Linked DNA regions of Homo sapiens. The protein of the gene in region 1 interacts with the protein of each later gene in a pairwise test. Each region holds a gene or a part of one and is shown in the gene's direction. Other genes may lie near its edges.

What was found. Proteins that work in one complex are often made in the same cells at the same time.
Region 2: the proteins of SSX2 (region 1) and AKAP9 interact in binary tests that used the Homo sapiens proteins (3 or more experiments, as listed by UniProt).

What each region holds. Positions count from the first base shown.
Region 1 is NC_000023.11:52,705,760-52,709,511, reverse strand, and holds the start of SSX2 (protein SSX2), read left to right. Parts: upstream 1-2,333; 5' UTR 2,334-2,400; intron 2,401-3,742; 5' UTR 3,743-3,752.
Region 2 is NC_000007.14:92,104,732-92,108,483, forward strand, and holds part of AKAP9 (A-kinase anchor protein 9), read left to right. Parts: intron 1-946; coding exon 947-1,032; intron 1,033-2,561; coding exon 2,562-2,691; intron 2,692-3,752. UniProt on the Homo sapiens protein: Scaffolding protein that assembles several protein kinases and phosphatases on the centrosome and Golgi apparatus. Required to maintain the integrity of the Golgi apparatus. Required for microtubule nucleation at the cis-side of the Golgi apparatus.

The sequences.
Region 1 (3,752 bases):
GTGAGCCAAGATCGCGCCATTGCACTCCAACCTGGGCAACCAGAATGAACCTCTGACTCAAAATAATAGCAATAATAATAATTCTGTTCCTCTTATGGCAGTTACAACATCAAAAGGTAGCTTCATGGGTTCACTTCTCACGATAATACCCATTTTTTTTTCTGCATTTTCAGCAAGATTTTCTTGTTCTAAAACCTCAAGGGCTGCGATGGTCACTCAGCAGCCTAGTGGATTGCCACCGTATGTGGACCCATGTTCCCCTGGCTTAATGGTCAGCATTATGCCATCGTCCCACAGCACTGCAGACACAGAGTATCAACCTCCAGAAAGGGCCTTTCCAAGGAGGACTATATCAGGACTGACATTTTCATGATCAACAGCCAGCCATCTACCAGTTCTGGCCAATCCTATCTGTATTTCATCAACAATGAACAGAACCAAGCTGGGAGCATGAGATGGGACGAGGGCAAGTAAAAATACCACAAAGCTCACTGTTCTTACGGAGATTCAGCTGGTCTCTCTCTCGCTCTTTCTTTCTTTCTTTCTTTCTTTTTCAGTCTTGCTCTGTCGCCCAAGCTGGAGTGCAGTGGTGTGATCTCAGCTCAATGCAACCTCCACTTCCCGGGTTCAAATCATTGAGTGAGCCCAGGAGGTCAAGACCAACCTGGGAAACATAGCAAAAGGCAGGGTGGTGCATGCCTGTAGTCCCAAGGCCGAGGCGGGAGAATCACTTGAGTCCCAGAGGTAGAGCCCAGCCTGGACAACATAGCGAAACTGTCTCTAATAGAAAAATTAAAAATATTAGTGGGGGCGGGGTGGTGTGAGCCCATAGTCCCGAGGCCGAGGCGGGAGGATTGCTTGAGCCTAGGAGGTCGAGGCCAGCCTGGCCAACATAGCGAAACCCCATTTCTGCTAACAACAAGAACAACAGAAAAATAGCGTGGGCGGGGTGGCTCACTCCTGTAGTTTTGAGGCCAAGGTGGGAGCATTGCTTGAGCCCAGGAGTTTGATACCAGCCTGGCCAACAAAGCGAAAGCCTGCCTCTCCTAAAAAATAAATAAATAAATAAATAAATAAAAATGAGCGGGGTAGAATGGCACACGCCTATAGTTCTGAGGCCGAGGTGGAAGCATCATCTGAGCCTGAGAGGTTGAGGCCAGCCTGGGCAACATATCGAAACCCGGTTTCCACTAAAACGAAACAAAACAAAACAAAAAATAGCTTGGGCAGGGTGGTGCATGGCTGTAGTCCTGAGATGGGAGGATCCCTTGAGTCCAGGAGCTTGATGCCGGCCTGGCCAACATAGGGAAACACGGTTTCTACTAAAAAAAAAAAAAAAAAAAAAAGCGTGGGCAGGGTGGTGCATGCCTGTCGTCTCGAGGCCATGGCGGAAGGATCCCTTGAGCCCAGGACGATGAGACCAGCCTGGCCAACATAGCAAAACCTGGTTTCTACTTAAAAAAAAAAAAAAAAAAAAGCGTGGGCTGGGTGGTGAATGCCTGTAGTCCCGAGGCCGAGGTGGGAGGATCGCTTGAGCCCACGACGTCAAGACCAGCCTGGCCAACACAGCGAAACCTTCTCTATTAAAAAATCAAAAAATAAAAAATATTAGTGGGGGTAGGGTGGTTCGCGCCTGTAGTCCCAAGACGGAGGCTGGAGGATTGGCCAAGGCAGATGTAACCAATACCACAATCACATCCCATAAGTAAATACATTTTCCTCTCTTCAGGGCTACAGGTAAAGGATGGTAATTGTGCGCACCATACTTAAGATTCCCTTTCAAAAATGTAAGCAGAGGTTGCGGGGCCTTGGACTGTTTTTTCAGTGGCAACAGACATAGAAGCCACTGAAGAATGAAAGCCACGACTAAGTATAGCAAACCTCCGCAAATGTGCTAGTTTGGAAAACATCGTGTCTTTCAAGTAGAAAAATCACAGATTGACTATTTTTTTCTTCCCACAGTTCAGACTAGAATCCAGATTTTTAACCCAAGATCCAGGAACGGTCTTCAGAGAGTTCAAAATCTGACGGCGCCTGAGGACCACCCACTTTTTCGCAGTGGCAACAAAGTGTGGCTGGAGGAGGAGACATTATTCTGCTATGTCACTGCCCAAGGATGATGGACCAATCAGGGCAGTTAGTGAACTCCATCTGGCCAATTAGAAGTCAGAACAGTAGGCGGAACAAGCGAAGCGGATGTGGCTTCTATCAGTCCCGGCTCCAGGGACGGAACCTTCTCAAAGTGGGGGTGGAGACTCTAATTTTCCCGCCTAAAGCATCCCCTGGGATTGGCTACTTTAAGTTCAGAGTACGCATGCTCTGACTTTCTCTCTCTTTCGATTCTTCCATACTCAGAGTACGCACGGTCTGATTTTCTCTTTGGATTCTTCCAAAATCAGAGTAAGCATACGCCGATTTTCTTTTTCCATTCTTCCTACCCCTCCCCTCCTCCGCGGTGCATTTGCTATCTAGTTTTAATAAGGAGTGTATATGAGGCAGGCCGCCATCTCGAATCTTTCCTGTCAGTTTCTAACTTTTTCAGGTACGGGATTTTTCCTAGGAACTCTGTAGTAACTTAAGAAATTTGGGCCGGGCGTGGTGGCTTACACTTGTAATCCCTGCACTTTTGGAAGCCACAGCTGGTGGATCGCCTGAACCTAAGAGGCGGAGGTTGCAGTGAGCCATGATCACGCCAGTGCACTCCCGACTGGGCAACAGAGCGAGACCCTGTCTGAAAAAACAAAAACCAAAAAAGCTCACTCAAATCTTTCCTCCTGGGCTCAAGTGAGCCTCTCGCCTAGGCCTTGGGGCTACAGGCGCGCACCACCCCGCTTCTGCTAAATTTTGTTTGTTTTTTTTAGTAGAGATGGTTTTGCTACGTTTGCGAGCCTGGTCTCAAGCTCCTGGGCTAAGGCGATCCGCCCACCTTGGCCTTCCAAAGTGCTGGGATGGTACAGGCCTGCTCCACCAACCCCAGCTAACTTTTTGTGTATTTTGTAGACGGGGGTTTTGCTGTGTTTCCCAGCCGGGTCTCGACCTCCTGGGCTCAAGCGGCCTGCACGCCTCGGCCTCCCAAAGTGCTGGGATTACAGGCGTGAGCCACGGCGCCTGGCTGATTGCTGCATCTTGAAATGCCCCACATTCTCTCTAAGTGATGGCGGGCTCTTGTAGTCTCAGAAATTCTAGCTCTCTTCCTTCTAATAATTTACAAATCACCGAGTAATAGCCTCTGAACACGTTCATATTAGCGATGCTCATTTCTCTTCAACAGAACAGAACCCCCCATCCCTCTGCCTGATCAGATCCATCGCCAAAGAGACCATGTTATCTCTGGGACTAACTTCCCTTCCTTTATTTATTGAGTGGGGGTGTCAGCATGCCCCCACTGAATAAAATTACACAGTCATGTCCCTGCCTCCCCAAAAAGGGTCCGTACATCTTTCAGGGTAAGCCTAGCTCCAGGGAAACTACTAACAACATTAGCCAACCCCCTCCCAAAGACTCAAGGCTGCTTTGCCCATAGGAAACCTGTCATTCCCTATCAATACTTCTCCCAGAGACCCCTGGTTCCCTGTTTTCATCTGATTTCTCCCCATATCCTTACTCAGGGACAGATAAGCCCCGGATGGAGAAATGCAGCAGCTGATTCCAGGTGACTGAGGGTGGCCGGCCTTCACTGACTTCTCCCTCCACAGGATCAAAGCTGCTGTGGCTGGAAAGACTCAGGCTATTTCTCTTGCAGGTCAGACTGC
Region 2 (3,752 bases), on another chromosome or scaffold:
GTAGTCTCCTGGTTTCATTTACTCTTCCTCACCTTTCATTTCCTTCATCACCTTGTATAGAGTAAACCAGGGTAAGTGCTGGTAGATGCATTGATGAAAAAATATATAATCCTGCCTAAATACCTAAAGGCAGCTCACTTTCTAGTGGGGAAGACTAATATGCACAGAACTTAGAATATAATAAGTAAATGGGAGGTCACAGGAGTTAGCTAGTAATTTTGATTAGAGGGATCTAGAGAGGCTTCATGAGAGCGGTGTAGAAGTTGTTATTGACATACTTCACTCTGCCCCACTTTTTCTTATCCAAGATTATGTTTATCATATTTTGACCCTCCTAAGATGGAGCCTTGGAACTGATTCAAAGTAAATCAAAACTGGTGCTCCAAAAGCTCCTTGGGCCAAGATGGGGAAGAAGGTCGTAACTTGCTGCACCTGGGTCATGAAGCTAACACTCCCATTCCTTTTGAAACCAACGTTTTTTTGTCCCTGATCAAAGGGACAAGAGCTTCACCCACCTTGCAGCATTCCCAGCACATTCTTATTGCCAATTTAAGGGTCTTTTTGTTCTCTTCTTATCTCATCTGCCCTTTATTCTCTGTTCTTTTCTCTTTTCATTACTTCTCACCCTTTCTTTGCCTATCTGCTTTTCCCATCTACTTTTGCCTTCCATCTCCTTATACCCCATTTATCCCTCAAGCTGGAACCTGATGCTGGCAATATAAGAGACCTCTAATGCCTCTTGGGAAGGGGATGAGGGGATTTTGAGTCCCTATTCTTCCGTTCCAGTTGATTTTGTCACAACAGGCATTGACATAGTTTAACTGGGCAATTGTGAAATTTGACATTTGTTCTATGTTCATATTTAAACGTGTGATGTGATTTTTGTAGGAAATGTATATACTGTTTATAGATGGGCTGTGAAATTTTATCTTGGAATCTTTTTTAGAATGAAATTTTTGGTTCGACGGTGGCATCGAGTCACAGGTTCTGTTTCCATCAATATTAACAGAGATGGCTTTGGACTGAATCAAGGTGAAGTCAAAATAGCATATTTTCTTATGTTTATGACTCTCTAAATCAGAGGTCCCCCACCCCCAGACTATGGACCATACTTGTCTGTGGCCTGTTAGGAACCAGGCCGCACAGCAGCAGGTGAGCAGCGGGCATTACTGCCCGAGCTCCACCTCCTGTCAGATCAGCCGTGGCATTAGATTCTCATAGGAGCACAAATCCTATTGTGAACTGCACATGTGAGGAATCTAGGTTGTGTGCTCCTTATGAGAATCTAACTAATGCCTGATTATCTGGGGTGGAACAGTTTCATCCAGAAACCATTCTGGCCCCTTTGGGTCCATGGAAAAATTGTCTTCCATGAAATGTGTCCCTGGTGCCAAAAAGGTTGGGGACTGCTGCTCTGAATTACTGCATGTGTAATACTTACCAAGTAATGAATTCTGGAAGCAATGTTTTCCAAAGACAAAGCCCTTATAACTGCCAAAACTAGGTAACTTCACTGTTTTAAAGAGGGTAATAATAACTGATTTTCATGGAGAACTTAGTCTGCACCTGGCCATGCTCTTTTCATGTATTCTCCCAATCCTATGATATAAGTACAGTTTTACTACTCTCACTTTTAGATGAAAAATCGAGGCATGGAAAACACAAGTCATTTGCCCCAGAATGGCCAGTAGGGAAGTGATGGAACCAGGACCAAACACTGGCAGTCTGGGTCCAGAGCCCACACTCTTCATAACTGCATTTAAGGCACGGTTCAAGACAGGATTGCTGTTAGTCATATGGAAGAATTAGGAAGTTTTCATAATTTAACAATATTCAAACAAGTTTCTGAGTTTACCAACAGGTTGTATAATAATGGTAACAGCTAAAATTCCTTCTGTCTACACCTAGAAGTGGAAACAAACTAGGGCTTGAACATTTCTGGCAATAAAGATGAGGTCCGAATCTGGGGAGCACACAGAGGACACAGCATCCCTGTGCTGTGTATTCATAGTAAACCACCTTTACATACTCTACCAGGAGCTGAGCATCCTACAGAGGGGAAATAGATTTGGTACCCTACACAAAGTATTTTGAAATATCATTACACTGAAACAGCTGAAATTTGTACCATAATAAGTTGTGTTTTATTAAAAGTTAGCAAATCTTGGTTTCAAGTCAGTAGATTGGAATGGTTACATTGGTCTAATATTTTTTATCCACATCATTTCCCACAAGCCACACCCACTCAGACACCCCTCACCTCTCATCTACTTAGAGCTAAGGTCTTTAAAGAAGAAAATATGCCAATTAAATAATTTTCTTTGAGACATAATTCCAGATATCAGAAATACTCATATTCAAAAGTAAACAAAATAACATTTGAAAGCCGAATTTTTGTTTGTACTGTTTTCTCCTTTATCAAGAATAATAGAAAATGACTATAAATAGGAGATTGTATAATATAGTATAATAGTCTTTTGAGCAGTTACCTATTTTGTAGAAATTTTTTAAGGTCTTGGGATTTTATTTTTCTTTACAAGGAATATTTTGGGTTACTTTAGGTGCAGAAAAGACTGACTCATTTTATCATTCTTCTGGTGGGCTGGAGTTATATGGAGAACCAAGACATACTACGTATCGCTCAAGATCAGATCTGGACTATATTAGGTCCCCTTTACCATTTCAGAATAGGTAAGAATATGAGAAAACCTGCCTGGAATTGTTAAATGTATTAATATTTAACAGAGATAAATGGACATTTTTAGGGCTTTGACTTCTTTGCATTGAGATAGACATCTTTGTTATATATAATTTACATAATATGACCAAGTGCGGTGGCTCACACCTATAATCCCAGCACTTTGGGAGGCTGAGGCGGGCAGATCATGAGGTCAGGAGTTCAAGACCAGCTAGTTGGAGACTAGCCTGGCCAACATGGTGAAACCCTGTCTCTACTAAAAATACAAAAAATTAGCCAGGCGTGGTGGCAGGCGCCTGTGGTCCCAGCTACTTGGGAGGCTGAGGCAGGAGAATGGTGTGAACCCGGGAGGCGGAGCTGGCAGTGAGCTGAGATTGTGCCACTGCACTCTGGCCTGGGCAACGGAGCGAGACTCTGTCTCAAAAAAAAATACAAAAAAATTAGCCAGGCATGGTGGTGGGTGCCTGTAATCCCAGCTACTCAGGAGGCTGAGGCAGGAGAATCGCTTGAACTCAGGAGGTGGAGGTTGCAGTGAGCCGAGGTCACGCCACTGCACTCTAGCCTGGGCAACAAAGCAAGATTTGGTCTCCAAAAAAAAAAAAAAAGAAAAAAAATATACATAACCTAAGGCTTAATGTAAAAATGTAAAAACCAGTGTTTAAATTTGTAACTGATTTCCAAGGGTATAGCAAACAAGCTGACCAAGTGTTATTTAGTGTATGCTATGGTTAGATATTGGGAAAAGTATTGACTAAAATTGATACTCTGATCATTATGAAAAGCTTAACAGTCTTCATGACAAGATACATTTATACATACCCAATTTATTGAGACCTCTGCCACAAGCATTGTATTGGACATTCTTATGTTGACTTAGTAGCATCTTTGAATTCATTGGAGAGTTGTCTCTTTCTCATCCCAAGCTCCAAAGCTGAAGCTTGGAGGAGATACATTATGTGTGTACAAGTGACCCACCTTTTTGGGGAAGGGAGTGGAGGCAGGTTGGTAACTTATATGCATATTTCTGGATAACTTGATTCATGTACATATTTTT